7 linked regions of the Homo sapiens genome follow. The protein of the gene in region 2 purifies or fractionates together with the protein of the main gene of each other region. This does not show direct contact. Each region holds a gene or a part of one and is shown on either strand. Other genes may lie near its edges. The genes, in order: XRCC1, RNF166, TNKS2, KIF1A, TMEM171, HLTF and AMOTL1.

Region 1 (4,309 bases), on a different chromosome or scaffold from region 2:
GGCATGAGCCACTGTGCTCGACTCCTATTGTCTTTTTTTTTTTTTTTTGAGACAGGGTCTCACTATGTTGCCCAGGCTGGAGTGCAGTGGCACCATCTCAGCTCACTACAGGCTCGACCTCCCGGGCTCAAGCGATCCTCCCACCTCAGCCTCCTCAGTAGTTGGGACTACAGGCATGTGCCAGTTCACCAGTCTAATTTTTGTATTTTTTTTGCAGAGATGGGGGTCTCACTGTGTTGTCTAGGCTGGTCTTGAACTCCTGGACTCAAGCATTCCTCCTGCCTCAGCTTCTTAAATCCTTGGGATTACAGACATGAGCCACTGCACCTGGCCTATTGTCATTTCTGTATAGTATTCTGTTGTATTGAGATAACTATTATGGTTTTATTTATTTATATTTGATTTTCTTTTTTAAACGGAGTCTCACTATGTTGCCAAGGCTGGTCTTGAACTGTTGATCTCAGGTGATCCCCCAACTTGGCCTCCTGAGTAGCTAGGACTATAGGTGCACACCACCACACCCAACTAATTTTTTTTTTTTTTTTTAAGCTTTTTGGAGGCAGCTTCCTGAGTAGCTGGGATTACAGGGATTACAGACAGAGCCACAAAGACCTGGCCATTGGGGTTTTATTATATTTGCTTTCTGAATGGGTATTATATGCATATAGTGCAAAATTCAAAAGGTGCAAAAGGGTATACACTAAAAAGAAAATCTCCCCTCACCCTTTCCATCCCTCCCTGCTCCCTCCCCAACTCCTGCTCCCTCCCCAACTCCTGCTCCCTCATTCTTCTCTCCTGATGCAACCACCATTAGCAGTTTTTTTGGGTGGTCTTCCTGGGTCATTCTGTACACATACAAGCATATATACCTACCGCCTCCATCCCTTTTTAAAAAATTCATAGTATATACACTGTTCCCTTGTGTGTTTTTTTTCAAGTAACAGTGTATTTTGGAGATGCACACTGCATGAAGTTCTACCTTATTTATTTATTTATTTATTTACTTACTTACTTACTTACTTACTTTGAGACAGAATCTCGCTCTGTCACTCAGGCTGGAGTGTAGTAGTGCGATCGTGGCTCACTGCAACCTCCCCCTCCCAGCTTCAAGTGATTCTCCTGCCTCAATCTCCCTAGTAGCTGGGATTACGGGCACATGCCACCAGGCTTGGCTAATTTTTGTATTTTTGGTAGAGATGGGGTTTCCCCATGTTAGCCAGGCTGGTCTTGAATTCCTGACCTCAAGTGATCCTCCTGCCTTGGCCTCCCAAAGTGTTGGGATTACAGGCGTCAGCCACGCCGTGCGCAGCCTACCTTATTCTTTTAAATGATGCATACAATTGCATTTCATGGCCGGGCGCGGTGGCTCACGCCTGTAATCCCAGCACTTTGGGAGGCTGAGGCAGGTGGATCACGAGGTCAGGTGTTCAAGACCAGCCTGGCCAAGATGGTGGAACCCTGTCTCTACTAAAAATATAAAAATTAGCCAGGTGCAGTGGTGGGCACCTGTAATCCCAGCTACCTGGGAGGCTGAGGCAGGAGAATTGTTTGAACCCGGGAGGCGGAGGTTGCAGAGAGCCGAGATCGTGCCACTGTACTCTAGCCTGGGTGACAGAGCAAGACTCTGTCTCAAAAAAAAAAAAAAAAGAAAAGATTGCATTTCATGGATGTGAAACAGTTTTTTAGCAATATATCTCAGGAACTTTGCCTTCCTGTGCCATGTTTGTTTCAGGAACAGTTCATATCAGAACTGTGTCTCCCTGAGAAAGCTGCATGCACACGAACCCAGGCCATCGGTGATAGTCATCTTGTGCTCTTATCCTCACAGCTGATACATACTGAGCACTCATCTCTTATTTTGAGAAAAATTCACATAAAATTTACTGTTTTAACCATTTAAAGTGCACATTTCAGCCAGATGCGGTAGCTCACACCTGTAATCCCAGCACTTTGGGAGGCCAAGGCGGGTGGATTGCTTGAGGTCAGGGATTCGAGACTAGGCTGGCCAACATGGTGAAACCCCATCTCTACTGAAAATACAAAAATTAGCCGGGGGTGGTGGTGCGTGCCTGTAGTCCCAGCTATTCGGGAGGCTGAGGCAAGAGAATCACTTGAACTGGAAGGCAGAGTTTGCAGTGAGCTGAGATTGCACCACTGCACTCCAGCCTGGGCAACAGAGTGAGACTCCGTCTCAACAAAAAACATAAATAAATAAATAAATAAAGTGCACATTTCAGGGTTTTTTTTTTTTTTTTAGCATATTGACAATGTTCTTCAACCATCTCCATTCTCTAATTCAGAATATTTTCATCACTCCAAAAAGAAACCACATAACCATTAAACAGTCACTTCTTATTCTCTCCCCAATGTTGCCCTTGGCAACCACTGATCTACTTTCTGCTTCTCTGGATTTGCGTATTCTGGACTTATAAATGTATACGTGGTCTTTTACACTTAACCTTGTTACACTTTGCATAATGTTTCTGAGGTTCATCCATGTTGTAGCATATATCACAACTTCAGTTTTTTAAATAACTGGATGATATTCCATAAATATACTGTACAATGTTTATCTATTCATCAACTGATGGACATTTATTGGGTTGTTACCATGTATATATAAACCTTTTTTTTTTTTTTTTTTTGAGATTGAGTCTTGCTCTGTTGCCCAGGCTGGAATGCAGTGGTGCAATCTCGGCTCACTGCAACCTCTGCTTCCCAGGTTCAAGTGATTCTCGTGCCTCAGTCTCCTGAGTAGCTGGGACTACAGGCGCATGCCACCATGCCCAACTAATTTTTCTGTTTTTAGTAGAGACGGGGTTTCGCCGTGTTGCCCAGGTTGGTCTTGAACTCCTGGGCTCAAGAAATCCACCTGCCTTGGCCTCCCAAAGTGTTGGGATTACAGGCGTGAGCCACCACCCCAGCCTCCATGTATAAACATTTTTATCAGATTCTTAAAAAGTATTTATTTACTTTTTTTTTTTTTTTTTTTGAGACAGAGTCTTGCTCTGCCACCCAGGCTGGAATGCAGTGGCATGATCTTGGCTCACTGCAACCTCCGCCTCCTGGGTTCAAGCAATTCTCTGCCTCAGCCTCCCGAGTAGCTGGGATTACAGGCGCCTGCCACCATGCCTGGTTAATTTTTGTATTTTTACTAGAGACGGGGTTTCACCCTCTTGGCCAGCCTGGTCTTGAACTCTCCTGACCTTGTGATCTGCCAACCTCTGCCTCCCGAAGTGCTAGGATTACAGGCCTGAGCCACCGTGCCTGGCCACTTTTTTTTTTTTTTAGATGGAGTCTCACTCTGTCACCCAGGCTGGAGTGCAGTGGCATGATTTCGGTTCGCTGCAACTTCTGCCTCCCAGGTTCAAGTGATTCTCTGGCCTCAGCCTCCTGTGTAGCTGGGATTACAGGTGCACGCCACCAAGTCTGGCTAATTTTTATATTTTTAGTAGAGACAGGGTTTCACCATATTGGTCATGCTGGTCTTGAACTCCTGGCCTCAAGTGATCTGCCTGCCTTGGCCTCCCAAAGTGCTGAGATTACAGGTGTGAGCCACTGTGCCCAGCCTGTTGTTTTCTCTCTTGAGACAGAGTCTCACTTTATCACCCAGGCTGGGGTGTAGTGGCTCGTCTCAACTCACTGCAACCTCCACCTCCCAGGTTCAAGTAATTCTTGTGCCTTAGCCTCCTGAGTAGCTGGGATTATTGAGGTGCGTGTCACCACACCCAGCTAACTTTTTTTATTTTTGGTAGAGACAGGGTTTTGCTATGTTGGCCAGGCTGGTCTCGAACTCCTGGCCTCAAGTGATTCTCCCGCCTCCACCTCCCACGGTGCTGGGATTACAGGCGTGAGCCAGTGCTCCTAGCCAGGACTTTTTTTATATACAAAGAAGAAATGTCAGGGAGTGCCTGTTTAAAGTAGAAATAGTTATATATGCAGTAGGAATTGTTCATTTAAAATACAAGCATCTCCATCCTACCACATTTAGGAGCTATGCTGAATATTGTGGGAGAGGTAAAGATGTTGAGTTTGACTCAGGGATGGAAAGAAAGGAGTTGAGAACAGTGGTGGTATTGGACAGTGCTTTGCAGTCAGGCAGTTGCGTCCGAAGTACTCTGCTAGTTATTAGCTTGTGTGCCATGTAAGCTATTGATTAAACCTGTCTGAGCCTCAGTTTCCCCATCTGTGAAACTGGAGTCGTAACAGACCCTTCTATTTAAAGTGGTTTTGAGGCTTCAGTGATGCCCGGCCCATGCTTAGCCAAGTGTGGTGGACAGAACAGTGGTGCTCAAAAGATGTTCATGTC
Region 2 (4,309 bases):
CCATCGCCCTCAGCCACTTCCTTCAGCTGAGAAGCTGCTCAGCACCAGCCCCTGGGTGGGCGCAGACAGGAACTTCCTGTGGGGGAAGCGGGCACTACTCCCGGCTGCTGGCTCTCTGAACACCAGGCTGGCAGTCACTGGAAACTAGGCCGATAGAGCACCCACCCTGTGGGTGCCTCGTTCTGCCTCCTGCTCCTCGGGCCCAGCCGCCCTGCCAGTCGGGCTGGGTTCCCTCTTGTGTCTTTCCTGAGTCCTTCCGGGGAGGACGAGGCTGTCTTCCTCCCAGCCAACCTTCTGGGCACCTTTCCTCTCTTCCCAAGCTCTGCCTGGGACCCTTTTCCTTCCCCTCAGCCCGTGGCCGTGCTGTGCAGCCGAGCCCCGGCCTGGTCTCTGGCAGCTCAGGGTTCACTCAGGAGGTGCACCATCCAGTCGTTTCCAGTGTGTTTGCAATTATGCAACAATCGATGCAATTCTAGAAGATTCTTCCCACTCCAGAAAGAAACCCAGGACTCTCCCCCTCGCCTGGCACCCACCCGTCTGCTTTCTGGTCACTGGGTTTCTCTCTGCTGGACGTTGAGCGTGAGTGGACCCCCACGACACGGGTGGGACGTGCTTGCTGTCTGCCCTGCACTGTTTTCCAGGCCTTCCGGTGCGTGGTGGGGCTGCACGCCTCTTCCCGGCCGAACGCCCTTTCCATGGGTGTGCACGCCACGCCGTCTCTTCATCCGTTTACCGACGGGCACCTGAGCTGCTTCCGCTTCTCCTGCCATGAGTGCCTGAGTATGGGGGTCCCCTGAGGCCTCCCCAGGTGGACCATCTTGCCAGCACCTTCCTCCCGTGAACGGGTGAAGTAGGCGGCCCCCCCGGCTCAAATCCAGGGGTCAGTGCCAGGGATGACCCTGGAAATATCTGCTGGGGCGCCTGGTGAGAACTCGGGTGAGGTGGGTAAAGTGAGCGACCTCTTTACTCTGCAGAAAAAGGCTTGTTCACTTTCTGACGGGTCTCAAGCTGAGTCCCGCTTTCTCTCACACGAAGTTTCATGTGGGAGCCACCAGCCAGGTGGTGGCTCTGTGGGAATCCAGTGGTGGCAAAGAGGGCCTGGGGGACAGCAGGAGGGACTTAAGATGCCTGCTTGGCCACCTTTGCCTGAGGCCCTCAGACTTCCTCCTTGCAGAAAGGGCCTTTTCTTGAGGGATGTGGAAATCTCTTGACAGCAAAGAGGACTCTGGCCCTGAATTCAGCTGAGTCGTTTGTGAACCCAGGGCCTGCCCACAGCCCCTCTGTCCAGTGGGGCTCCTGTACCAGCCCTGTGGCCTTGCCAGGGAGAAGGGAAGCTACACCCCCGGGTGCTGTAGCCTTCCTGGGACTGGGGGGCTCTGCCTCAGTTCCAGCTCCTCGCCGCAGCTCAGCTGTCCCCACAGTGCTCCTCACAAGGCCAGATGTGGCTGCCCCAGTATTAAGCTCCTTCTCTGTGTTTGCACTGGGGGCTCTCGCGCCTGGTGCTCCCACTGGCTGGTGGTGCACCCCTCCAAGGGCTGTGTGCGTCTGCAGAGCGGGAGGGTGTGCGAGCCCAAGGAAGCCCCTGCTGCTGGAGCCCGGAGTGCGCACGGGGCTGTGGGACGCTCAGTCTGTCCTCACGATGTGGTGTCCCCAGGGGCAGTGCCAAGAGCCAGGGCCCATGGGTGCCCAGGACCCGAGCCTCCGCCCAGATGGAGCAGGACCCCCTCCTGCCTGCGAAGCTGTCCCAAGCCTGGTGACTGCCACCCAGCCTCAGGATGTGCTGCCACTTGGCTAGCTTTGGCCCTTCCCTGTCCAGTGCATCTGGAGCCCCTGGGGCCTGGCCGTTTCCTTTCCCACGATTGTTTGAGGTTTTATCCCCCAGAGTGTGGAGCCGGGAGAGTTTCCAGAGTCCCCGGGCTGTCCCTGCGCCCCACAGCCCACCCAGGTGTTGTCGCCACGTGAACGTGAACCTGGTAGCCCGAGCTGGGGCCTCCTGCCTATGGGAGCTCCTCTGGCCCACTCGCGGGGACAGCCATAGTGACGGCTCTGCCGCTAGCCAGAAACCACAGGGGCCTACTGTCAGGAGGGACCGGGGCCACCCTTTAGCCAGATGGGGCCCATCCAGCTGGTGGGCCCCGGACATAGGAGTGACCATCTCCAGAGACGGCGACAGCGGTAGGGGGAGCTGCCCCTGTGGACCCCACAAATGCTGGGTCCTAAGAAGGGCCCCGAGCAAGGCCTGCGGTTCGGGAGACCCGAGGGGCGGGCTGGCACTCAGGCCCCTGTGCCCTGCAGGTTCTGCGGGGAGTGTCTCCAGCCCTGCCTGCAGGTGCCATCCCCGCTGTGCCCACTCTGCCGCCTGCCCTTCGACCCCAAGAAGGTGGACAAGGCCACCCACGTGGAGAAGCAGCTCTCATCCTACAAAGCGCCCTGTCGAGGCTGCAACAAAAAGGTACCCGCCTGCTTGGGCCGCCCTGGAGCCGGGGTCACTTGATGGGCAGCCTCAGCCCACGGGTTCTGCAGAGGGTGGGGGCCGGGGCCCTCTCTCTTTCCTGTTGAGTAATCGCGGTCTCTGCTCCTGCACCAGGAAGCCAGCCCCGGCGCCTCCCTCCCCTCCCGTCTTCATCTCTCACTTCCTGTGGTGACGGCTGACGGGGGGGCCAGCCCGGTGGGGGTAGCACTGTCAGAGCCGCCTAGCCCGGGCCAGGGGAACCCACGTGGGTTGTGGCCAGGGTAAGGACCAGGGGGCTGAGCTGAAACCTTCCCAATGCAGCCTTCCCCTGCCAGCCGATACCGGGGACGGCGCTGGGGGCTCCAAGGTCACAAGGGCCGCGGGCACAGTCAAGGACATCTAAGGGCCGAGCACCCTCCAGCTGCCAGGAGGGCCAGAGCCGGGCTGATGGGCACTGCCACACCCACATCAGAGCAGCGTAAGGGCCTGCAGCTTGTCATGGGCCTCATTGGCCCCCATGTCCATCCTGTCCTGGTGCCTGGCCCGTGCCCCGTGGCCCTCCCTGGCACATCCGCTTCAGGGTGGAGAGGCCCCAGCCAGCGCCCCGTTCTTTCAGTGGCTTCCGGAGGACTGAGCAGCTAGAGGTGATTTTGCATTTGCGTTTCCCGACGTTGCCACATCTCAGGTGAATAAGTTCTATGAAGCGCTCACACTAGTACGTGGCCCCTCGGTGGTTTGTCCTCGAGGTCGAAGGTCCAGATGTCCAGGGGCTGCCCTGGACTCCAGAGTGGTGCGGCTGAGCAGGCTGTGGTCTTGGGTGCTTGGGCACCTCCCGTCTCTCCCTGCTCAGAGTTCTTCTCTCCTGGGCAGCCAGAAAGGATCAGAACCGGTCACATGCAGAGCGGCCTCCCGTATCCCACAGCAGCTCCGTTCTCTAATCTGGGTCTTCAGATGCGGCTGTGTCTCCCGGCACCTTGCTGGAATGTGGTGCATCCCTCGGAGTCCAGCAGCCCTTAGGCAGAGCTGGGTGCCGAGCTTGAGTCCAGGAGGGCCTCAGACACCTGCGATCTTGCAGCCTGTTGCCCTGGACAGTGGGTGTGCTGTGGGTGGAGGATGGCGCCCTGCCTCCACGGAAGCATCCCCAGCTTGCCCCTCAGTCACACGAAGCGTCTGTCCCCAGCCTGGGGCATTTCTGAGTGGCCTCCACTTGGCCTCTTCCTTTTTCTGGAGCAAGTATTTGAACTCCTGCAGGCGCCAGAGATCTCCTTACCTGTTTCCCGCTACCCTTCTCCAGCCAGGTTTCTGCCCTCGGCCAGATTGTCCTGCAGTGACTTGCTTTTGGCCATGGAGTAGTGGCTGCTCAGTGCCTGAGATTGTTTTAGCAGCAGAAGGGACCGGGTCCCCCTGCTGCTGGCAACACAGACGCTTGCTTACAGTTCTCTGGTCCTGGACACCTGAGGTCTCGGCCTCCCCAGGACGGCCCTTCCAGATTCTCAGGACCGCCTTGCCCTCCCTGCCCTGTCTCCTAGGTGACCCTGGCAAAGATGAGAGTGCACATTTCGTCCTGCCTGAAGGTCCAGGAGCAGATGGCCAACTGCCCCAAGTTCGTCCCCGTGGTGCCCACATCACAGCCTATCCCCAGGTAGGCACGCTGCCGGGCAAGGGAGAGGAACTGTCCTCGGCGGTTTCCTCGTTCTGGGAGCAAGCGCAGTGCCCCATCCCAGAGAGGCTGGGGGAGTCACCCGGGGCCGGGTCCACTCTGGGGAAGTGGACCTTCCTTGCCACCCTGCAGGAAGGCTCCTGTGCTGCCCTCCCTGGCATACCCACCAGGCCCCCTGGGGTAGGGACAGCTCAGCT
Region 3 (4,309 bases), on a different chromosome or scaffold from region 2:
AATAATGATCATAATTTACATCACAGAAACAACTCCAGAAATGCATTTACTCTGATTAACTCTTACTCAGGACAAGGAACATGATTTTCTAGCACTTTATGTACAAGTTACTGCAAAGGGCCAGTTAATTTACAGACTGAATAAAACGTAAAATAAAGGTGAACTGGTACAGACAGTGATGGGGAATGTCCTCATTAAGTGAGTAAAGATCTTTCCTCGACTTTGAAGGGAGCTAGAGTCAACAAATAAAAGAGATTGCCAAGCCATAATGGATGTATGTCTCTGTAACAAGATGCTTAAGCATGCTTCCTGGAAAAGAGTTTTATATTAGAAAATAGGAATGGCATTTTATGGGACAGCATTTCCTTCTATAGCTGCCAAACTGAGCACAGGCGTGGTCACCATATGGTGCACAAACTGACAGCATATTTCCAATTGGGCATAACATCATGGAGAGAAAACCCAGGAGCAAGAAGCACCTGTTTCACTGCACTTGCCCATTCAGGAGGCCTGGAGGGGACTGAGACAACTACATTTTATAGTTCTGGGTTAAGTTTACCCATGATGTATAGATTGGCTATAAATACAGCAATAAAACCAAGTAAAAAGAACAGGAAAAAATATACTTAGGATAAAAAACTACCCAGTCCTGTTTGTGATTTTTTTTTTCCCCTTTAGATTTAAGGTAATTAGAATAGATTGGGAAATGATTTAGGATTACCCTTCCCACCCTGGAAATGTAACATCCTACTTATGTTCCATGAAAAGAACACAATAATTGTTCAACAGCAAGATTTAGTTTCTCTAAAAAACAGGAGCACTTTGCTCTAATTTTCACAGAAGGACTGCAGAAAATTTTCCAACATGAAAGCTAGAAATTGAGGCCAGTAAAGAAGCTTCTTTAGTAATCAGGACCTATCATAGTTAGAGCTCTTTGGAATGTGTCTCATACATACAAAGGTATCACAAATTAAATCTTCAGCATATTCATAAGTTCTTAAATGAGAAAGATTTCTAATGACAGATAAAGGCTCCCATCGGCAAATTAAATCTGATAACTCAATCTTTCCCAACTAACAACTGAACATAGCCTCTGGAATCAAATGTAAAGATCACTCAATCATGACGATGTAAGATGAAGTATAGATGAACAATACATATGAAAAAATTTTGTAAACCGCTGCAGTTCTAAAACAGATTTATATTACAAAGCAATGTAAATAAATACTGGGCTAGTACAAAAGCTCTTATTTACAGTTTTACAAATGAAATTGTATTCAGTGTAAATGCTGTGTTTTAAAGAACACAGTATTGTATTAGTAAAATTAGTTCTGTTGAGGGCATTACAGTTTGTTAGAATCAATGCATAACATATAAAAGGTTCAAGTTAACTCTGTTTATAATTTAGTACAGACAACCCAGTTTAACCTGGAATGGCATCTGTTAAAGTGCTGAAAAAACAGGAAATATTTAGAAAACACTGTACATTATTAAAGCTTTATCAAGTCAGAATGTTAAACTTCGTTCACATTTTTATCCTTTTGCCACAGGCCTGTGGGCAAGATGATTTTTTTTCAGCAAAGGAGTAAAACGTAGAGGCCACTGCTGCTTTGATGATTTTAGGTTCAGTGGAATTAGTTTCTTAAAATAACTATTTATCCATCGACCATACCTTCAGGCCTCATAATCTGGTAAGTAATTAAATACTCAGGATAAGCCTGGAAGAGAAAGATAAATTCAAATAATGGTACAAAAATTTTCTTGAAAGATAAACAGACTTTCCGGAAGTATTCCTAATCTTAGGGAGGAGGTTCTAAATTACTGTTGTAGATCAGAATCATCTAGGGACATTTTCTCAAAACATCTTTACCCTGAGTACAGTTCTTCAGATTTTCAATCAGCAAGTCTAAGATGAATACTAAGTTCATAAGTATCAGATAAGACTAAAATCATGTCTGATTTTAGTAACTGCGGTGATTCCGATACCTACTCCCAGTTCACAACACTGCTCTAGAACTACTTTTGGCTCTCACTGAGAGCAAAACACAGTTATATACTTCTTTGCTATGGACAGGCTGTTAAATACAAGATTTCAATTATTTATAAGAGCTAAGAAAAATCCGGAACGACTGGCGAAATTTGAATAAAATCTTCTTGTTTTTAGGAAATTTACAATTGAAATAGTTAATGGTAAAGGGACATGCCCTGCAACTTACTCTCAAACAGTTCACAAAAAAATAGGTACACACACAAGGAAAGAAGGAGAGAATGGTAAGAGTAAAAAAGAGAACAAAATATTAACATTTAGGAAATCTAGGTAAAGGTTATAAGAAAATTCTCTTTACTATTTTTGTAACTTTCCAAATCTGAAATTATCTCCAAATAAAATTTTTAAAAAATCCAGTTAAGGCAATATGTCTTGTCAATTCAAGAGATTAATAAAAAGTTAAAGTATGCCTCCCTAGCATTTTTGAAGATGAACAAATAAAACTACATTACCTGTTCTCCTCTGTAAATAACATATTCAGCTAATGCTAGGCCATTTACACTGGGCCTACCAGTGACTGAGTGATGACCTGGAGGAGAATGTGCCATTTTCATTGCACTGAACTGCAGGAAAGACTTTCCCAAGGTTACCCGGCAAAAGAGCAGCTGCCTATAAAACGAAAAGGAAAAGATCACCCTGAAGTCAAATTTGATACATAAATATGACAATGTGTGGACACGGCATAAGTTTTAAAAAATTATTTATACATAAATACTTATAATTGTTTTTATCATTTCACCCCTAAAAGAACTTTTTAAGAATGTCTTCTATTACTCTTATTAATGAAATAATTTGTCAATTTAGTTAGTCCTTATTTTAACTATAAAATCTGAAAAATGTAATAACCTTATAGAGATACAGACTCTACCACCTTGTTTGTATCTCAGCAAAAAACAAAAGTCACTGGCCAAGTGGGAAGGAGAAGGTTTAGTGGACTTCCATTAAGTGGCTTGCAAAGTTGGACACATATCTAATTAACTCCAGTTGATTTTACCTTCAAAATATATTTGAAATCCATTTACTTTTCTTAATTCTACTGTCACTATTAAGTCAAATCACTGAAATATTCACCTGGACTATCACACAATGGCTTTCTAAACCAGTCTTCCTGTTTCTTCTGTAATTCCTGTCCAAACCTTTCCCATCCAACTAATTAAAACAAACAAAAATTAGATCAAGTCACTTTTCTGCTTAAAACCTTTTAGAGGCTGTCACTGTACTTGGGAGAAAATCCAAATTCTGTACAATGGCTCCAATTTCTTGAATCTCATTTTATGTTCATTATGCCCCATGCACATTAGTTTTCTTTTCTTCACAAAGGCCAAACTTGCTTTATTAATGGTCCCCATCCACAGAATTTTCTCCACCATTGGAATGTTATCTATTTTACCACTCTTCCACTGGCTGATACCCACTCAATTTTCAGACTTCAGCTGAAATGTTACTTCCTTAGATAGGAAGTAAACTGGTAGTCTCCCCTCACCACCAGTTTCAGTAGATTACCCTCTCACTCCTCTCAGGCATGTGACTAGCCTTTCTTAGTTTCAAACAACCTTTTAGTATTAACGTCATTGTTTCTTTTTAGAAGATAACAGGAGATTTCTGTAGACCAGTTGATGGTTCTATCTTCCAAAGAAGAGGGAGGTATTAGAATGCTGCTTATTACTAATAATCAGAACTATTTAGCCTTCAGACCATATATGACAAATAAAAACAGCAGTGTTCAATTTACAGGAAATTACATGCCTCCTAACCACTCCAATTTATGATCTAAAATAGAAGTGAGTGGGACGTCATACATAGGAGGGCCTACTGTGTACTACCTATGCAGGCCTAAATTTAGAGGGGTAACAGTAAGAACAAAACAAACACAAAGAAAGAACCTGTTTCCCTCCATGACTGCAATTCTTCAGCTCGGAAGCCCTTTGAAATCAACTGGGAAGCTTTTAAAAATTCTAATATCCAGATCATGCCCCAGACCAATTAAAAGAGATTCTGTGAGGGTGGGACACAGGCATTAATAGTTTTTTAATATTCCCTGGGTGATTCCAATGTGCTGCCAAAGTGCAAAGTACTGCTCTAGGGGTTTTTTTCTAGATCAGTGGTCAGAAATACAGTGTCACATCTGGGAACTTGGTAGAAACTCAAATTCTAGAGTCTCATCCCAGATCTACTAAATCAGCAACTGAGAAGGTGGAGCCTAAGAATCTGTGATTTAAACAAGCCATCTAGGTGACTCTAATGCATGCTAATGCTTGATAA
Region 4 (4,309 bases), on a different chromosome or scaffold from region 2:
GCATCAGGTCACTTATGAGCAGGCTTTGTTGGCAACTCGTCTTTTCTCCCTGGAAGCTTTTAGGATCCTGTCTTTTCCTTGGTGTTCTAACTTCATGTCGACGGGTGTAAGGATGGGGTTCGCATTTATTGGCACTCGGTGGGCCCTTCACACTGAAGTCAGGGTCTCTACTTCTATTTGTTCGTAATTTCCTCCTTTTCATTTTTTCTTTTACCCTGAATTCATGGGTTGGTCTGTTTGGTTGCTTTTCTCTTGTATATTCTGTCTCCTTGTTTATATTCTAAAGTCCTTTGACTGCCTTTTCTAGGGTTTTTGGAATCTTGTACTTCATCTCTTACATTTTTCATCTCTAAAATCTTCACGTTTCTAAATGTTCTGTCTCATAGCATTCTGCCCTTGTTTTGAAAATGAGCATCTTCTTGAATCTCCCGGGTGCGTGGACAGAGGTTGTGCTCGGTTGTTTCGCGTCTGTTCCATGCTTTGCCTGTCCTTCCCGCAGGGCCTGTTTTCTGCTGGCAGCTCTGGTCCTTCCCTTTCACACTCTGTTCTCACGCCCGAGGAAGGCATTAGTTGGCACATCATGTGTTAGGGAGGCCATTGGCGGGAGCGGCAGGGCTGCTGCTGCTCACCCCGGAGTGGTTCTGACCAGAGCTGGGGTGGGGTGTCCATGGGGGGTGGGGTGTCCATGGCAGGCCCTGGCTTAGGTGAAGGGGTGGGGCTGGCTACCAAGCTGCCCCTGCATATCAGAATGAGGGGTACTGCATTCTTCAGCTCACTGAAGGCTTCACTCCTGCTATGGAGAAAGCCATTCAGCTGCTCACCTGGGGGCACTGGCAGTGACCACCCTCGGAGGGTGGATGGCGGGGCTGGGGGTGCGGGCTTCCATGTTAGCCTCACTTCTCACCCCTGCCTTCCACCAGGTGCCTGAGTTCCCATGCCTGAGCCCCTGCCCCTTCCCTGCCCTCTGCAAGCGGCACTCAGGGCTGAGGTCCCAGGAAACGCCTCTCCCACGCCCTTTGCAGTTGGGGGCTGTGTGGTGGGCTCTGGCCCTATCCCATGGGGTCTCAGAGCAACCAGTGTGCCTGCAGTCATTGGACCTGGGGCTCCTTACTCTCCAGGGGTGGCCAGGACACTCCTCTATGACAATCGGTTGTAATTCTAAGAAAAACCTGCTGTGGTTTTTTTCTCAAACTCTTCAAGAAGGATCAGTGTTTCAGGAAGTGGCCCATGCCGATGCTTTGTTCTGGGCTGGCCCTGCTGGGTGTGCACATGGCGGGCCACTTGTCTAACTGGGAGCAAGTGGATCCTTGAGGTGAAGGCAGATCCCCGAGGTGAAGGCGGATCCCCGAGGTGAAGGCGGATCCCCGAGGTGAAGGTGGATCCTTGAGGTGAAGGCGGATCCCCGAGGTGAAGGCTGATCCCCGAGGTGAAGGCGGATCCCCGAGGTGAAGGCGGATCCCCGAGTGAAGGCTGATCCCCGAGGTGAAGGCAGATCCCCGAGGTGAAGGCTGATCCCTGAGGTGAAGGTGGATCTTGAGGTGAAGGCGGACCCAGAGGTGAAGGCAGATCCCAAGGTGAAGGCGGATCCCCGAGGTGAAGGCGGATCCCTGAGGTGAAGGCTGATCCCTGCCTGAGGTGAAGGTGGATCTCGAGGTGAAGGCTGATCCCTGAGGTGAAGGTGGATCTTGAGGTGAAGGCGGACCCAGAGGTGAAGGCAGATCCCGAGGTGAAGGCAGATCCTGAGGTGAAGGCAGATCCCTGAGGTGAATGTGGATCCCGAGGTGAAGGCAGATGTCTGAGGTGAAGGTGGATCCCCAGGTGAAGGTGGATCCCCAAGGTGAAGGCAGATCCCGAGGTAAAGGCGGGCCCCTGAGGTGAAGGCAGACCCAGAGGTGAAGGGCGTCTGGGCTCCAGGCGGATGCCTGTGCGATGCTCTGCAGCATGGGCCTCTCCAGCAGCTGGGCAGGGAGTGCCTGTGCCAGGCCTGTGTCTGGCCCTCACCGTCACCCCATGCCTGGTCTTTCCTGGACACTCCTCGAGCTGAGGCACGCTTTGTCATCTGCCTTGGTGCCACCCCCAGCCCCCTTCCACAGGGACTTGGCTTTTTCTGCTGATGCCCCCACCCCAGGGTGAGGCAGGAACCTGAAATGGTCCCAGAGCCCCAAAGCAACAGGGGAGTTCCTCCGGGGCCACCCTGCCCTCTGTGCCTGCAGTGACTTGCGGGGCGTGGCCCGGTGCGCCCAGTGGGTTTTCTGCATGCATTTTTACCAAGTGAATGGATTCTGTTCCCCTCTCCTCTGTCCTGGGGCCCCTGGCTCAGGGCTCATGGTCTCCCTTTCCTGGAGTCATCACAGCCGGCTGGCCATACCCACATACCCACATGGATGGCCACCATCCCCCAGCCCTCTTTCCCTCTCCTGCCCTCGGGCCATCTTCTCTGCCCACTTCCTGTGGGTGCATCCTGGGTCTAGTCAGAGCCTCAGACACCCGTGGTGTTGCCTCTATGTCCCCAGCGCAGACCCCACCCTGCCACCACCAGCTTCTCGGCATCTTCTTTGGCTCTGAGCAGTCATCCCAACCCCTCTGGCTTCCTCCCTGCCACCCTTGAGCCTGTGCCCTCATCTCTGGCCACTCCAGCCAGCGTGACCTCACCCCACAGGACCAGTTCATGCTTCTTGTTTCTGATGACTTCCTGCCCCACCTGTCCCAGAGGTGCCCCTCTCTGTCTTTGAGGGGAGCTCACCCTTTCTCCTGGGCTCTGGCATGTGCTGTGTCTGGCACTGTGGACCGCAACCCCCCGCCTTCTCAGGGGTTCAGCTGTGTCAGACCCCCATCCTCAGCTTTGCCTTCTGCCATCAGCCACGCCCATAGGCTCTGGCCACCCTTGGGGCCACGTGGCTCCCTCTCAGGTTGGCTGACAGAACAACTTCTTGAAGATAGTTTCTTTTCTTTTCTTTTCTTCTTTTCTTTTTTTTGAGATGGAGTCTCACGCTGTAGCCCAGGCTGGAGTGCAGTGGCGCAATCTCTACTCACTGCAACCTCTGCTTCCCGGGTTCAAGTGATTCTCCTACCTCAGCCTCCCAAGTAGCTGGGATTATGGGTGCCTGCCACCACGCTGAGCTAATTTTTGTATTTTTAGTAGAGACAGGGTTTCAACATGTTACAAGCCAGGGTGGCCACTAACTCCTGACCTCAAGTGATCTGCCCACCTCGGCCTCCCAAAGTGCTGGGATTACAGGCACGAGCCACTGCACGCGGCCAATAGTTACATCTTTAAAAATTGTGTCATGTGGTAGCAAAAATATACAACAAGGAATACAGAATATTACAACCAACGGCCACATGCCCACATTAGCTTTCAAAATAAGGCATTTCCAACCTGCTCCCCAAGGGTAGCACTGGCAGAGGGCTCACCACCACCCGGCATCTCGGCCGACCCACATCACCCTGGGGAGGAAGACGGACAGATGGGGCCTGGCGGGAAGGAGGTCCTTCCACGTCACCATGGCGGGCACATCGAGTGGCCTTGGTGGCGTCCAGGCCCTTAGACCCCCTCCACGCCCAGCACCATGAATTCGGTGCTGATCGCTCCTGGAGTGTCATCGTCTGCCCTGAGTCTGTGGAGTGCTGCTTGTGTGTTTGAAACTTCGAGGGGCCTGCAGCCGACTCTGCATTCATCTGCATCTTGGATGCTGGGCATTTGGGCTGTCTCCATTCTTTTTGTAATGATAAGTCATTCTGCATTTGGGTGTATTTCTCCCTGTGAATATGTATAGCATCTCTACTTGCAGAGTTGCTGGGGCACAAGGTCTGCAGCCCCTCCAGATGTTACCATGTTATTTTCAAAGTGGTGGCACCCGTTCACTCCCAAGGTGAGCTGTAAAAGCTCCTGTGGCCTCCTTCTGACAGCGTTTGGTGTGCCCTACTTTTAAATGTTGCCATCTGGTGGATACAGTTTGAAAATATGGTTTCCGAATTACTATCGTGGTTGAGTATCTTTTCATGTAAATTGCCAGTTCATATCTTTTTGCCCATTTTCTTCTGTGATTTTTGTAAATTTTTATTTTTATCTGTCCTCTGTGTATTCTGCGTACAAATCCTTCGTTGAATTGTATGTGTTGCAGATACCTTCTCCAGGTGGGTGGGGTTCTCGTCACCGTTTTAGTGATATCTTTTGATACCCAAACTTTCATTTTGGTGTTTTCGGTGGGTTAAGAAATCTTTCCGGCTGGGTGCGGTGGCTCGCACCTGTAATTCCAGCGCTTTGGGAGGCCGAGGTGGGTGGATCACTTGAGGCCAGGAGCTTGAG
Region 5 (4,932 bases), on a different chromosome or scaffold from region 2:
TGGGCAACCACGAAGAAACACAATCCCACAAGCACAATCAAGGGCCCCATGATCTGCAGAGAAAGGAACCCACACATCCGGGGCTCTGAGTCGCCAGTGTCTGTCTCGTTTAGCGGTTCCTGCGCCCAGTTGGAGCCACATCCAGGGACCCAAATGCCCAGGACGCTGATGAGCATGCCGCTTGTCAAGAACAGAAACCCAAAGATAAGGCACTGGGCAAACTGGCGGCTCTCTCCACAGATGAAGGCTCGGTCGGGGTCCATCTGCTGACCTCTCTGCAGCCCTGCACGGAGCTGAAGTTGCGCCCGGGAGCGGGCCAGGATCACAGCCCCAAGCCCAACCACGGCACATGCAGGCCCCGCCACCTTGAGCACCATGGGGCAGTCTGGGAGGGGCTTATATTGGCATGCCTGGAACCCAAAGATGGAGAGCAGGACTCCCACACACAACAAGACGGCGCCGAAGACAAAGAAGCAGAAGATGAGTTTGCTGACGTGTCTGTCCTGCTGGTCCCCATCTGGCTCAGCAGCAGCTGCAGGAGACATGTCCAGGAGAGGCCCCTTCCCGGAGGCAGGGTGGGATGTGTTTTCTTCCCTCCAAGATTTCAGCAGCTCTGCAAACACAACCAAACACCAAATTAACGTGGGCACAGGTGTTCCAGAACCACCCTGGTTTTTTGCTGATCATTTCTGAAATCACACCACAATGAGGCCTTGGGGGTAGAACTTTATACAACTGATAAGCTGTAGAACAATGAGTTGGTTTATGAGTCAGATAAACTAGCATTCAGAAACTCCTAAATATGTAATTTTACAAGATATTCAAAACAGGAAATTAAATTACTACACATCTAAGGGTATCTTTTTTAAAAACTGAAAGAACAAAAGTAGCTGGGTGTGGCATTTCCTTTTCTGAGTCTTACAAACTCATTTCCCTGGGGAAAAAAGCACTGGTGAATGAGGGAAGAACCACAGGGATTCTTTCTGATTGCAAATGCCCCACTTTTCATCATAGCTGCTCTCAGCATTTTCAAGTCAGTTCAGTAACTAACTTTCCATTTCCTGTTTTAGACTACAGCAGCTTTCCATTTCATGTTTTATTCTAAGGCTACATCTACAAAAGACCCAATTTCAGCAATTTCAATAGAATAAGAAGTCTGTTCAGGAACACAGTGGGTTTGGTGGACTTTTAAGTTGATTCTATCAAAATGTGGTTCTTGAGGCCAGGCGTGGTGGCTTGCGCCTGTAATCCCAGCACTTTGGGAGGCAGAGGCAGGCAGATTGCTTGAGCTCAGGAGTTCGAGACCAGCCTGGGTGACATAGCAAAACCCCATCTCTGCTAAAAATACAAACTTTAGCCAGGCATGGTGCCTGTGGTCCCAGCTACTTGGTAGGCTGAGGTGGGAGGATTGCTTGAGCCCAGGAGCTGGAGGTTGCAGTGAGCCAAGATCACGCCACTACTCTCCAGCCTGGGCAACAGAGTGAGACCCTGCCAAAAACAAAACAAAACAAAACAAAATGGTTCTTGGGTTCTCAACAAGCACAGACTGGTGACCCAGTTGCTTGGATCTGGGATGACCCTGGAAAGTGTTGCACAGCAGGTCAACAGGAGCTCAATTTTCAGAGTGGACAGGTACCCAAAGGCTGGTGTGGCCTCTCACTCACCCTCCTCCATGGTGTCACCTACTTCCACAAAGAGGTTGAGACTCAGTTAAAAAACAAGCAGCCAATAAAACTGCTAGTTATAAAGCACAAAATGGGTGGAAGGGGGGAACTTGGCTTTGAAAGAATAGTATAAGTGGAATCAAGTGAGAAAGCACCTTCCAGAAAATCACCCAAGCCCTGTACTTCAGGGGTATAATATATTAAATATGCCAAGTGGTTGTTAAAGAGTTGTCTAGCTTACACAGAGCTGACCTAATTATCTCGTTATCTTATTTTACTCCAATGAATGGGATATTTTACCAGGACCCCGTAAGTCAGGTCCTGCAATTGCAAAGACAATCCAAAATCGTGAAGACTATTTTCACCTGCCCAAGGAAAGAAAACTTTTAAAATATTTTGTGCCGCTCACATCCATGGTCCCATGAAGGAACTCAAGACTGAGGCCCTAAGCCCAAGATGATCTTGACAAACCAAAATCACACTGAGGGAAGGTCAGTTTAGGTAAAGAAAGCAAACAGGCAATCTTACACTGGGAAAAACTTTTCCAGGAAAAAGTATGATAGAATCAGAAGGAAGTTGGAGAAAAAAAGGAAATATAGGAGGGAAAAAAGCTTTCATTTCAAACTTGGAAAAACTTGATATACAGATGCAGTTAAGCTGAGACAAAGCATTGCACTAATTTTTTAATCTTCCCATTTTTTATTAAGTCAGTAACATCCTGCAGTGAATAAGAATTTCATATTGAGTATACAGTAGTCCTCATTTATCCTACAGGGAGTACATTCCAAAACTCTCAGTGGAATGAAACGATGGAGAGTCCTGAAACCTATATATATTGGTTTTTTGTTATTGTTGTTGTTTTAATTTTTTTCCTGAATCATGCAATCTCTTTTGCGGTTTCGGAGACAAGAAAGAGAAGGGTGATTCTCGGCTGCAAAGTCCTATCAGGAATTCATTTATTCCCAGTATAGTCAACTTTGCAGTGAGTCACAAGGCTTCAACTGTCTTAAGGCAAATTCCCAAACACCAGTAAATAGAAGCCCAAAACTGAATCTGTAGTTTCTTGTCCGTGGACTAGTGGACGGAGCACCTGGCTGAGTGTTCACCTCTGATCCATAATAGTGTGGAAATACTCTCTCTCTCTCCTTCTCCCACAGATGCACTCACAAACGGATACAAAGACACCCACATTCACTCGCAATGAAACCTTTTCCAAACACCACCCTACACTTAAACTCCCCAAAGCCAAACTCCCCTCTCCAACACTCCTATTGGTTTTCCAAAAGACATTTCCAAAATTCACAGCACCTCTCCACGTCCAAAGCTATGGTGCGTTTGGGGAACGAAACGAGAGGCAAATGCCTTCTGTGCGAAATCGGTTTGCGGCTTTTAGGGAGCCCGAGCGCAAGCAACAGCCGGAGGGGCTCGCAGGGACGCAGGTTGGGCTCGGATACCCAGCGCCTCCGCGCTGCCGCGGCTCCCCGCGCCCAGCCTGGCCGCACAGCTCAGCGCCCGACCCGCCGCCGCCGGCGCAGGCGCGCGGGCCGGGGCAGCTTACCTGAAGCTGGGTCCGGCGCCTGGCTGACCGCGCTGCTGTGGGCACTGGCTGGGCGCGGCGTCCGCCTCCGCACGCGGCCTCGGCTGCGCCGGCCGCCCTGCACCCTACCCACCGCGCGTCCTGGTGCGGAGGGCGGACCCGGCAGTATTTAGAGAAGGAGGCGGTGCTGCGCGGGCGCGGCGGCCCGGGGAGGGCAGGGCAGGGCAGTGCAGGAGCGACCGGTGGGAGCTGGCCGCCACTGGGGGCCCGGGGCGCGCCCGCGAGGGAATGGAGAGCCAGGGGCGGCTTCGGAACCCAGGGCTGGCGGGTTTGGCAGCCTCCGCGCTCGTGGCCGTGCGCGCGAGGAATCTGGGAGAAATGGGCACCTTCCACGGCTGCCTGGCCCGCACACCTGGCGGGGCCGGCGAGTTGAGATGCCCCCGCCGGCTGGCGGAACTGTGCGCCCCGCCCGCCGAGGCCCGCTCCCCCTCGAGGCCTGAGGCCCAGTTCTATAGGGGCGCGAGAGAGCGGCGGCGTGGGGGGCGCGGAGGAAGCGCCGGCCCCCGCCTCCACCGCCTCCTTCGTGGTTGCGGCCCAGGCCGAACAGGGTACCGTGCCCCGGCCGCCTTGGCCTTGGCCACCGCGAGGTCCGGGGCGACTACACCCAGCAGCCCTGTGGCCCTCCTACTGCTCTGGAGACCTGGAGTGGGGTTACAGAGGGAAGCGACTCGCTGCGAGCTCCCCATCGAATATGGAGCCACCAGGTCACGGGACGACGTGCGCTCTACAGAATGTGAGACAAGGGCCCTCCACACCCAGCCATTCAGGCCTGAGGTCCTGGCTCCGAGACTGAGGCCGAGACGCGGCAAGCCCCGCGCCGGACCAGCTCTGCCCCTCCCGCACCCACGTGTCTGCGCACAGCCCTCCTTTGCGATAGAACCCCCTTCCTGGTTCTCCACCACTAATGATCTGCCGGAATTAAACTGGTAACTTTCCCTGCCCTTGAACCGGGAGTTTCGGGATGAGTTTGCCAATCCCTGTGCTATTTGTAACCAGCCCCGTGACACGTGATACGGATCCAACTGTGCTAGTTTCCACACCAGGGGTCAGGGCACGGTGGAAGGTGAGTCAAGGGTTCTCTGCCCAAGCGCAGAGGTGCCCTGAGCCACGGGGACTTCCCAGCCCTGCCTTCTCTTCTCAGCTTCCTGTCTGCCTTGCCTGAAACCCTATCTAGAGTTAAGGCCAATGGATGAAACTTTTCAATGTGCAAGCAAGCACTTTACCTACCTGATACAACAAGAGATTCCTGGTCATGCTCACTGAAGGTAAAGTATGAAGCAGGCTTAGCTAATCATCAGAGGTGAGAAGAGACTTAAAGAACCAGTCAGAGAGGTAAAGAGGGGAGGGGGTTACCTGGGCTTTAGGGTTCACCAGGGAGGCAGAACGGACAAGTTCTTGCCATTGGAATTTGGTGGGGCACTTGCCTGGGTGGCCAAAGGTGGACTTTTTCATAGCCAGGGTGCCCGACCTCTGTAAATCCCCGCCATAACTAACAGCCCTGATTACTGTCGAAATGAACAATGCCAACACTCACGACCCCTTGCTTTGTGGTTCTTTGCTACATCTCTCCAGCAGTTCAGAAAAGGTTGGAGGCAGCAGGGGACAGGAGACTGAGAAAAACAGTCATTTGTCAGTTGAGGAAACTGAGGTCCAGGCTGACAGAGGTAAAGT
Region 6 (4,309 bases), on a different chromosome or scaffold from region 2:
AGGATTTGCATAATCCGGTTTAAAAAAGATCATCCTGTAGGCAGTGGCAGAGGGGTGGCGACTGGGAGAGAACATAGCTCTGCCTCATAGATAATATCTCTAAAAGTCTAGAGATGAATATCTGTCTAATACTCTGTTTAGTTCTGGCTGTAATCTCTTGAGTCAGTAGACATGCTGGGAGAGGTTTGAAGCAGCTTTCTTGTATATTTTCAAGGAATTTTTTAAAATTGAGATACATTTATTATAAAATTTACCATTTTAAAGTGTACAGTTGAGTAGTTTTTAGAATACTCACAAGGTTGTGCAACCATCCCTACAATCTAGTTCCAAAACATTTTCATTACTCCAAAAAGAAACCTCATTCCCATTTGTAGTCACTCCCATTATCTCTACCCCTCAGTCCCTGGCAACCATGAATCAGTCTTCTTCCTGTGTATATGGATTTACCTCCTCTTGACATTTCACGTAAATGAAATGATACAATATGTGGCATTTGGGTCTGGCCTCCAATACTCATTTTTATGTTAAATAGATTTTTTTTTTTAGTGTACTATTTTAATTCCCTTGTTTCTTTTACTATATATTTTGAGTTACTTATGATTGCTTTAGGGATTACAATTAACAACTTAATTTATAAGAACCTAGTTTGGATTAGTGCCAACTTAACAGTATATAAAAAACTTTGTGGCTGGGCATGGGGCATGGTGGCTCACGCCTGTAATCCCAGCGCTTTGGGAGGCCAAGGTGAGTGGATCACGAGGTTAGGAGATTGAGACCATCCTGGCCAACATGGTGAAACCCCATCTCTACTAAAAATACAAAAATTAGCTGGGCATGGTGGCACCTGCCTGTAGTCCCAGCTACTTGGGAGGCTGAGGCAGGAGAATCGCATGAACTAGGGAGTCAGAGGTTGCAGTGAGCCGAGATTGTGCGACTGTACTCCAGCCTGGTGACAGCAAGACTCTGTCTCAAAAAAACAACAACAAAGAAAACCCCAAAAAAACCTTTGCTCACAGCTCCATCCTATTGCCTTCCTTTGTGCTGTTATCCAAGTTATATCTTTATATATGTAGTATACCTATCAACAAAGATTTATAATTATATACTTTTTAATGAGATAGGACAAAAATTACAAAAAATTATACTTAAAAATTTTTATTTTTTTAAATAATTTTTTTTTTTTTTTTTTTTTTTTTTTTTTTTTTTTTTTAGAAACTGTCGTTACCCTTTTGCCCAGGCTGGTCTCAAACTTCTTTTGACAGTTTGATTATGATGTGACCAGGTGTGGATCTCTTTGAGTTTATTTTAGTTGGAGTTGTTGAGCTTCTTATATGTGTAGAGTAGTGGTTTCCATCGAATTGGGAAGGTTTTGGCTGTTATTTCTTTAAATATTTTTTCTGCCCCTTTCTCTTTTCTCCTTATGGTACTCTTATGTATGTGTGTTGGTATGCTTGATATTACAAGTTTCTGAGGCTCTGTTGTGTGTCATTTTTTTGTTCCTTAGATTGTATAATCTCAATTGACCTATCTTCAGCTTCGCTGATTTTTCTTATGCCTGCTCAAATTTGCTGTTGAGTCTCTCTGGTGAATTTTTTCTTCAGTTATTGTACCTTTTGACTCTAGAATTGCTGTTTGGTGAGACATCGTCTCCATGCTTTTAGACATGCGTTTTCATGTCGAAAGAAATGATTTGCTTTAGGTCTTTGAACTTATTTTTTTTTTTTTTTGAGACGGAGTCTTGCTTTGTCGCCCAGGCTGGAGTGCAGTGGCACGATCTCGGCTCACTGCAAGCTCTGCCTCCCAGGTTCACATCATTCTCCTGTGTCAGCTTCCCGAGTAACTGGGACTACAGGCACCCGCCACCTCGCCCGGCTAATTTTTTGTATTTTTAGTAGAGACGGGGTTTCACTGTGTTAGCCAGGATGGTCTCGATCTCCTGACCTCGTGATCCGCCCACCTCGGCCTCCCAAAGTGCTGGGATTACAGGCGTGAGCCACTGTGCCCGGCCAGGTCTTTGAACTTTTTAATTTTTTAGAGATAGGTTCTTGCTCTATTACCCAGGCTGGAGTGCAGTGGCGTGATCATAGCTCACTGTAACCTTGAACTCCTGCATTCAAGCAGTCCTCCCACCTCAGACTCCTGAATAGCTGGGACTACAGGCATGTACCACCATACCTGGCTAATTTTTCTATTTTTATTTTGTAGAAATGGGGTCTTGCTATGTTTCCCAGGCTGGTCTCAAATTCCTGGCCTCAAGAGATCCTCACACTTCAGCCTCCTAAAGTGCTGGGATTACAAGTGTGAGCCACCATGCCCAGCCCCTTTGAACATATTTAAAATAACTGACTTAAATTCTTTTTCTACTATGTCAAACATCTATACTTTCTTGGGGACAGTTGACATTGATTGCTTTTTTTCCCTGTGTATAGACCATACTTTCTTATTTTTTTTGCATGTCTTGTACTTTTTTTCTTGAAAAATTGACATTTTAAATAATGTGGCAGCTCTGGAAATCAGGGTGGTTTGTTGTTGCTGAGTTTTGTAATTAGTGTGTGTTTGTTAGGCTTCTAGGGTGGTTTGTTGCTGAGTTTTGTAATTAGTGTGTGTTTGTTAGTGACTTTCCTGAATTAATTCTGTGATGTCTATCCTTTATCGTGTGTGGTCACTGAAGTCTGTACTTGGTTAGCTTAGCGGTCAGCTGATGATTGTGCTGGAACTAATAAATCGTACATTCTTTGCTGAGAACTTCTGTATGTTAGGGCATTCCTTCAACACTCTAAGGCCCCTGACAACTCTGCTTTAGCTTTCACTTCTGGCTTGTTTAAATGCTCAAGTTCAGGCAAAGGTGAGCGTTTAGGGCCTTCTCAGGTCTTTCTTGAGAATGTGCACAGCCCTGGTCATGCATACCAGCCCTGTGCTTGCTTACGGCCTTCTAGATATCCAGAAATACACTGGAGCTTTTCAAAGCCCTCACAGACATCTCATTCCCTAGCTCTTCTTTATAAGCCTTTTTGTTTTTTTGCTTCAGCTGTTATCCACTGCCTCAGGTAGCCATGAAGTTAAAACACTTTCCTGTAAAATTGTTTTGACAAACATCCGCCCAAGGGAGGTTTTTTTGTACTTGGTGAGCTCAGAGGTTAAATACAGTCAGCCTTGCAAGTGGGGTCTTCCGGGGAACTTCAGGAGAATAACAGTTCTTTGGGAATGAATCTCTGAAAGAACTGTAACTCCATTCTCTTTTTTTCTGGTGACTGCCAGGCTTTACCTAGGATCCCAACAAGCTATTATTTTTATTTATTTATTTATTTATTTATTTATTTATTTATTTATTTATTTTGAGATGAAGTCTCGCTCTGTCACCAGGCTGGAGTGCAGGGGCACTATCTTGGCTCACTGCAACCTCTGCCTGCCGGGTTCAAGTGGTTCTCCTGCCTCAGCCTCCCGAGTAGCTAGGACTACAGGCGCGTGCCACCACACCCAGCTAATTTTTGTATTTTTAGTAGAGACGGGGGTCTCACCATGTTGGCTAGGATGGTCTTGATCTCTTGACCTCGTGATCTTCCCACCTCGGCCTCCCAAAGTGCTGGGGGCGTGAGCTACTGTGCCTGGCCGTGAGCTATTTTTAAAGGCTACAGGATTGCTGGGGATGGGACTGAAGTACTGATATTCAGCTGTTTATTCTTTTTATTCTTGAATAAATGTTACCCAGATTTCTGCAAGCCTTTGATTTAGTTCTCAGTGTTCTGAAACATTTGATTCTGACAAATAATTTATCTAGTTTTTTTGTTGCCTTTATTGAGGAATTTTTGAAAGTCCTCATTCTACCATTCTTTATTGTGTTACCCTCCTTCAGTTTTTAAAAATATACATCATAATATTTAAGTTAAATCATACAGTTTTTAATAAAGTAGAATCAGAATGGCATGAGTTGAAGGCTGGATATATTTTTCTTACCTAGTTCCATCCTGACTTATAAATGCCTTATTCCCTGACTTTTATATTCTGGAGAATTGAGGCTCAGGAACCACCCTGTGTGGGTTCAGATCCTAGCTCTGCTACCTTTTAGCTTTGTGACCTTGGGCAAGTTACTTTTCTGTGCTTCAGTTTCTTCATTTGTAAAATGGGAATAATGATAGTACCTCCCAATAGAGCTGTGAGGATTTAAAAAGTCAGTCTGTGCAATGTACTTAGACCAATGCTTGGCACATAGTAAGCGCTCAATAAGGGTTGGCTATTTTTCAGAAGTTATGATGTTGAAAATTTTAGATAATTTGAATTTGCTAGTTTACATTTGACTATTTTTTAAGAC
Region 7 (4,309 bases), on a different chromosome or scaffold from region 2:
TGATGTTTTTGTACCTCCAGGTCAGCTGGATCGCTGTTTTCCCAGTTCCCTTTGCTCATGCTTACTTAGAGGAAGAAAGAAAGGGGGGTACCTCTTCCAAGTACCTTCTAAATGAAACACTCAAGAGAGTGCTACTCAGGAAACTTTGCTTGGATCCTAAAATGGACTGGTCTTGGGTGTGTAACCCCGGTGAAGTTATAGCCTCCCCAAATTGAGGTGACAGAAGGAAGACAAGAGGTGTAAGCTGGAGAGGGAAGGGAAGAAATCAGTGGCTTTGGCCAGCCTCTGTGCCACCCAGTACGACAGAGGAGTGGGAACTGGCCCTCTGGGGCTCTGCTTGGCCATAGGCACTGCACATTGTGCCACCTGCTCATCACCTCCTCTAGTCTCACACTGAGCATCGGAGTACCTGTTGTGCAGACAGGAAAACTGAGGAGCTCTGAGAGGCTGAGCATGGAGCTCACCCCATGCCATAGGGTGTGGGAAGAGGGCACAGGAGGCCTCATCCATGGGGGAAAGGGTTGAGGATGGACATGGGTGGGGAGAGGGCATAGACATCCCTTCCTAATCTCTGTTCCCACCACATTTCATAGGAGATGAGTTAGGAGATGACAGCTAACTCTCTTAAGGACATTTTGACCCCAGTTTATGTTGGGGATGGACCAGAAAGGAAAATGTCTAGAGATAGGAAGGTAAATCAACTCTGCCAGCCCCTACCATCAGGTCTGGGCCACCCCAAACTTGGGCTGCCTCCCTTAGACATAGGTTAGAGTGAGAGACCCAGCTGTTTCTCCCGAAGCCTCGTCTTCATGCCCCAGACACCTGATTGCCCCAATCAGGTGTCAGACTTGCTTGCTCTTCGAGGTCCCCCTGAGCTGCCAAGTGTTTTCATTGTAAACAGACACATCGCCATGTTTCAGGGCTTCAACGGCATTGTATTTTGGACTTTGACCGTATTTTTTTTCTCTTAACCTACTGAGACTCTTCCTTAAGAACAGGATCTATAGCTTTAAAATGTCTTCTTCTATGGGAAATTTCCTGCCAAGCCAGGGCACTAAATTCTTTCATCATTAGAGCTTTCCTGAAGTCCGGCCATATACTGAGTACCTGCTCTGAGTTCTGGGCAGCTTACAATATCTTAAACAGATTTTCAGAAAAATAATGCAACTATATTTTCTAGTGTCAACTGTATGCAAACAGTGTGGTAAATACCTTTTAATTAGTCCTCCACCCACCTGGAGTACAGGGGGTGCGTTTATTATTCTGATTTCACTGATGAGGAAATGGGCTCAGAAAGGTTAAGTCCCTTCCTGAAATCTCACAGCCAGGAGAAGCTAGGATGATTTAAAACAAAGTTTGGAGAGGCACTGGGCATAGACCCTGGCTGTACAGCCTCTAACATGCGGCACTGCATCTTGGCAGTCTCTATGCCTGTCTGTGATGTGTGTGTGCACGTGTAACTACACACACACACACACACACACACACACACACACACAGCTATCACACATCTCAGAGCCTAAGAAATAGGACTAAGCCCAGAACTCCTAGAATCACCTATAAATGCTAGGCATAGATGGAAATTATTGTGTTCCACCAGAAGCACAGCTCCAAACTATACCTAAAAAATATTTCTGCACTTCCCAGAGACCTGGACTTCAAACTTTCCCAGTGGAGCCTGATTATAGAACTTGAGGGTCCTATCTCAGGATGAAGGGGAGAGGCCCTGGCTTCACGGGAAGGTATTCCAGCATTGTTCTGCTTCACCCTTGACTGCGTTGTCTGGCAGTTTCTGTGTGCTGCCAGGATATTATATGGAACTGGAGAAGTTGGAGTCAGGTCTCTGAAGCTAGAGTTTCACTAATTAGATGCCTCTGTACATGAGAACTATTACTGTCTGCAGGTCCATATAGCTAAGCTGCCAGGAAAAACACATTATCTTCCAAAACTTTCAGAGCATGTGCAGAACCCTTTCTTAGCGTTTTCTTCTCAGCATTTTCTCTGCCTCCCAGAGGCTGGCAGCCAGTGACACTGCAGAGTTCAGCATGTTCTAACCATGCACGCAGGGCAGGGGCTGCCTTGGCCCTCCTCAGGCTTTCGTTGGGAGAGCAGGCAGTGGTGGAGCCCTTCTGGGTGCAGTCCTCTGGGGTTGCTCTTTGGAACTCATGTATGAGTTTGACTCCACAAGGCTTGGCATGGATACCAAAACAGTTGCAACAAATTAGTTCTGAACCTGGAACAGAGAATTCAGTGCTTCTGTTACTCAGGAAGGAGGTGTTCAGAATGCCCCGTGCAGAGCAGCCAGTCATTACTCTTGTTTGTTCTCACCTGGGTGCGCACCCTCATGATGCAGTGGCTGTAGCACCTTCATGCCAGGTGCTGAGAGAATGGGAAATTCTTCCTCCCCATTGACCTGAGTCCCAGAGACTTAGGGACACAGACTTCAGGTGAGGCTGCGGACCTCAGAAGCAGTGGATAATAGATTGGGGCATTAAAAGCTTTTGAGGCAGGGGGCTCATGTTTTGACTGCAGGGAGTTATGCTGAGCAAAGAGATGTGTTTTTCAAAACCAGGGTTCAAAACCAGTGTCCACGCTGGAGTAAGTGGAGCATGCTTCTCTGTGTTCTCTGAATGATCTTGCACTCCTCTTAAGCAAAGGAGTACCATGACCATAGTCAGTGGGATCCCACAAATGTTCTTAAATGGGTAAGGCTTTAAGTAGCCAGAGAGTATCCAGCCTACCATTGGCTTCTCCACATCCTAAAACCTGAGACAGCCTTGGTATATGCTTTATAAATGTTTCTTTTCTTGTTGTTTAAGTAATTAAAGTGTTTAAAATGTCTTCATTAGATGTGACGATTGTTTAATGAGTTTGCCTCTGACGTGTGGCTCCATGGGAGATAGGCAAAGTAATTAAGAAGTTACCAGAAATTGGTCGGCTGGGGAAATGCAAAAGTTAGCATTTCAGTAGTGAATTTCTCCTGGAACAAATGAGCAATTTTTCCTCTTTCTCTTAAGTAGTATACCCTTTTCTCACTTAGTAATTTAATGGTATATAAAGACATGTGTATAAGTGAGTGCATACATATGAGGTATGACTATAGGGTTGTTTGTGGGAATTTCTTTTCCTAACATACAGAAGATCAAAGTGTTCATCTCACCCCGCCCTCCTTAAAAGGTGTCTTTTGGGAGACTATGTGCTCATTGACTATAGTGCTGCCAAGTAAAAATATCTTGGGAACTCTTCTACTAGAATGGCCTTCAGGGCTTGGCATGTTCCTTTGGTTTACCCTTAGAGATGAGAAATCCTCCTCCTTTGAGGATGGATTTAAGTTCTGGAAATAATCTCAAGTGCTTGATAGCACAGTTGGATGAAAAAAGATGGCAATTAAGGTAAGTTACACCATTTTTGTTTCTAAAAAAATCCCTAAGAAATTTCTTGGAATGAGTCTTTGGCCTCAGAGCCTCTCAAAGTGTCCACTTCAAGGGGGGATCATCCTCATTAGCACACAGATTTTTAAAAATCAATTCTCTTGCCATGCCTCCTATGTGTTCACATCTCTGCATACACTACAGATATAAGTGCATAATCATTCATATAAACATCTGGTAGGTATTCTGTAAAACTGTGTTTACTTTAGTGCATGTTATTGTCATGTTATGATGTGACTGGGGTGTTTCTTTGTCATGAAACTTTGCTTCTTCACAGAATTAGAATACTGCTCTCTCTATATTGAACTACATATACAGCGTTTTCTTGTATCAGCCCCCAAAGTCTGGATGCCCGGTGTTGTGTTTACATGTGATTGTGCCTAGGAGTCTGTTCACATAGAGACACCTGTAAGTATTTATTACAAAACGGAATGTAAGCAAATATATCCACATTGGTTTTATTTGAATCAAGGTGTTTTTTTGTTTTTTGTTTTTTTTCCTTTTGAGGAGGAACAGGGAGCCTCCTCCTCCATGAGCACTTACAGAATTGTGTAAAATTCTGTGAAACAGTGGTAAGCATGGGCACCCGATTTCAGCTGTCCTGCTGCCGCTGCCCTCCAACCTGCTCTGTGTGTGTGTGTCGCTGTGCTTGGTGGCAGTGTGCCGTGCTCGTGCCGGCTCTTCCCAGCAGACTGGTATCTGGCTGTAACGTTTGACGTCTTCATATTGCCAGTCTGTATTGAGGGGTGATGTACATGGCCATACAGCCAAATGGGTCTGTGTACCAGTGTGGGGATTCCAAGAACACTGCCTGTCCCCCACAGCAAATATTGATGCTGTTGGTCAGCCAAAGATTTTCCTCTCCTTTGCTGCTTAAA

The links.
Region 1: the proteins of RNF166 (region 2) and XRCC1 purify together in Homo sapiens (affinity purification with mass spectrometry; 2 studies listed by BioGRID and IntAct, with this or other methods). This does not show direct contact.
Region 3: the proteins of RNF166 (region 2) and TNKS2 purify together in Homo sapiens (affinity purification with mass spectrometry; 3 studies listed by BioGRID and IntAct, with this or other methods). This does not show direct contact.
Region 4: the proteins of RNF166 (region 2) and KIF1A purify together in Homo sapiens (affinity purification with mass spectrometry; 3 studies listed by BioGRID and IntAct, with this or other methods). This does not show direct contact.
Region 5: the proteins of RNF166 (region 2) and TMEM171 purify together in Homo sapiens (co-immunoprecipitation; one large-scale study listed by IntAct). This does not show direct contact.
Region 6: the proteins of RNF166 (region 2) and HLTF purify together in Homo sapiens (affinity purification with mass spectrometry; 2 studies listed by BioGRID and IntAct, with this or other methods). This does not show direct contact.
Region 7: the proteins of RNF166 (region 2) and AMOTL1 purify together in Homo sapiens (affinity purification with mass spectrometry; 3 studies listed by BioGRID and IntAct, with this or other methods). This does not show direct contact.

What each region holds. Positions count from the first base shown.
Region 1 is NC_000019.10:43,565,215-43,569,523, reverse strand, and holds part of XRCC1 (DNA repair protein XRCC1), read left to right. Parts: intron 1-4,309. UniProt on the Homo sapiens protein: Scaffold protein involved in DNA single-strand break repair by mediating the assembly of DNA break repair protein complexes. Negatively regulates ADP-ribosyltransferase activity of PARP1 during base-excision repair in order to prevent excessive PARP1 activity.
Region 2 is NC_000016.10:88,699,405-88,703,713, reverse strand, and holds part of RNF166 (E3 ubiquitin-protein ligase RNF166), read left to right. Parts: intron 1-132; exon of another isoform or gene 133-924; intron 925-2,295; coding exon 2,296-2,452; intron 2,453-2,763; exon of another isoform or gene 2,764-2,773; coding exon of another isoform or gene 2,774-3,094; exon of another isoform or gene 3,095-3,980; intron 3,981-3,981; coding exon 3,982-4,094; intron 4,095-4,309. UniProt on the Homo sapiens protein: E3 ubiquitin-protein ligase that promotes the ubiquitination of different substrates. In turn, participates in different biological processes including interferon production or autophagy.
Region 3 is NC_000010.11:91,860,346-91,864,654, reverse strand, and holds part of TNKS2 (poly [ADP-ribose] polymerase tankyrase-2), read right to left. Parts: intron 2,657-4,309; coding exon 2,500-2,656; intron 1,719-2,499; coding exon 1,656-1,718; 3' UTR 1-1,655. UniProt on the Homo sapiens protein: Poly-ADP-ribosyltransferase involved in various processes such as Wnt signaling pathway, telomere length and vesicle trafficking.
Region 4 is NC_000002.12:240,810,031-240,814,339, reverse strand, and holds part of KIF1A (kinesin-like protein KIF1A), read left to right. Parts: intron 1-4,309.
Region 5 is NC_000005.10:73,118,987-73,123,918, reverse strand, and holds the start of TMEM171 (transmembrane protein 171), read right to left. Parts: upstream 3,345-4,932; 5' UTR 3,223-3,344; intron 614-3,222; 5' UTR 546-613; coding exon 1-545. Other genes in the region: uncharacterized protein LOC124901001, read left to right, coding at 3,490-4,191.
Region 6 is NC_000003.12:149,076,275-149,080,583, reverse strand, and holds part of HLTF (helicase-like transcription factor), read left to right. Parts: intron 1-4,309. UniProt on the Homo sapiens protein: Has both helicase and E3 ubiquitin ligase activities. Possesses intrinsic ATP-dependent nucleosome-remodeling activity; This activity may be required for transcriptional activation or repression of specific target promoters.
Region 7 is NC_000011.10:94,872,315-94,876,623, forward strand, and holds part of AMOTL1 (angiomotin-like protein 1), read left to right. Parts: 3' UTR 1-4,309. UniProt on the Homo sapiens protein: Inhibits the Wnt/beta-catenin signaling pathway, probably by recruiting CTNNB1 to recycling endosomes and hence preventing its translocation to the nucleus.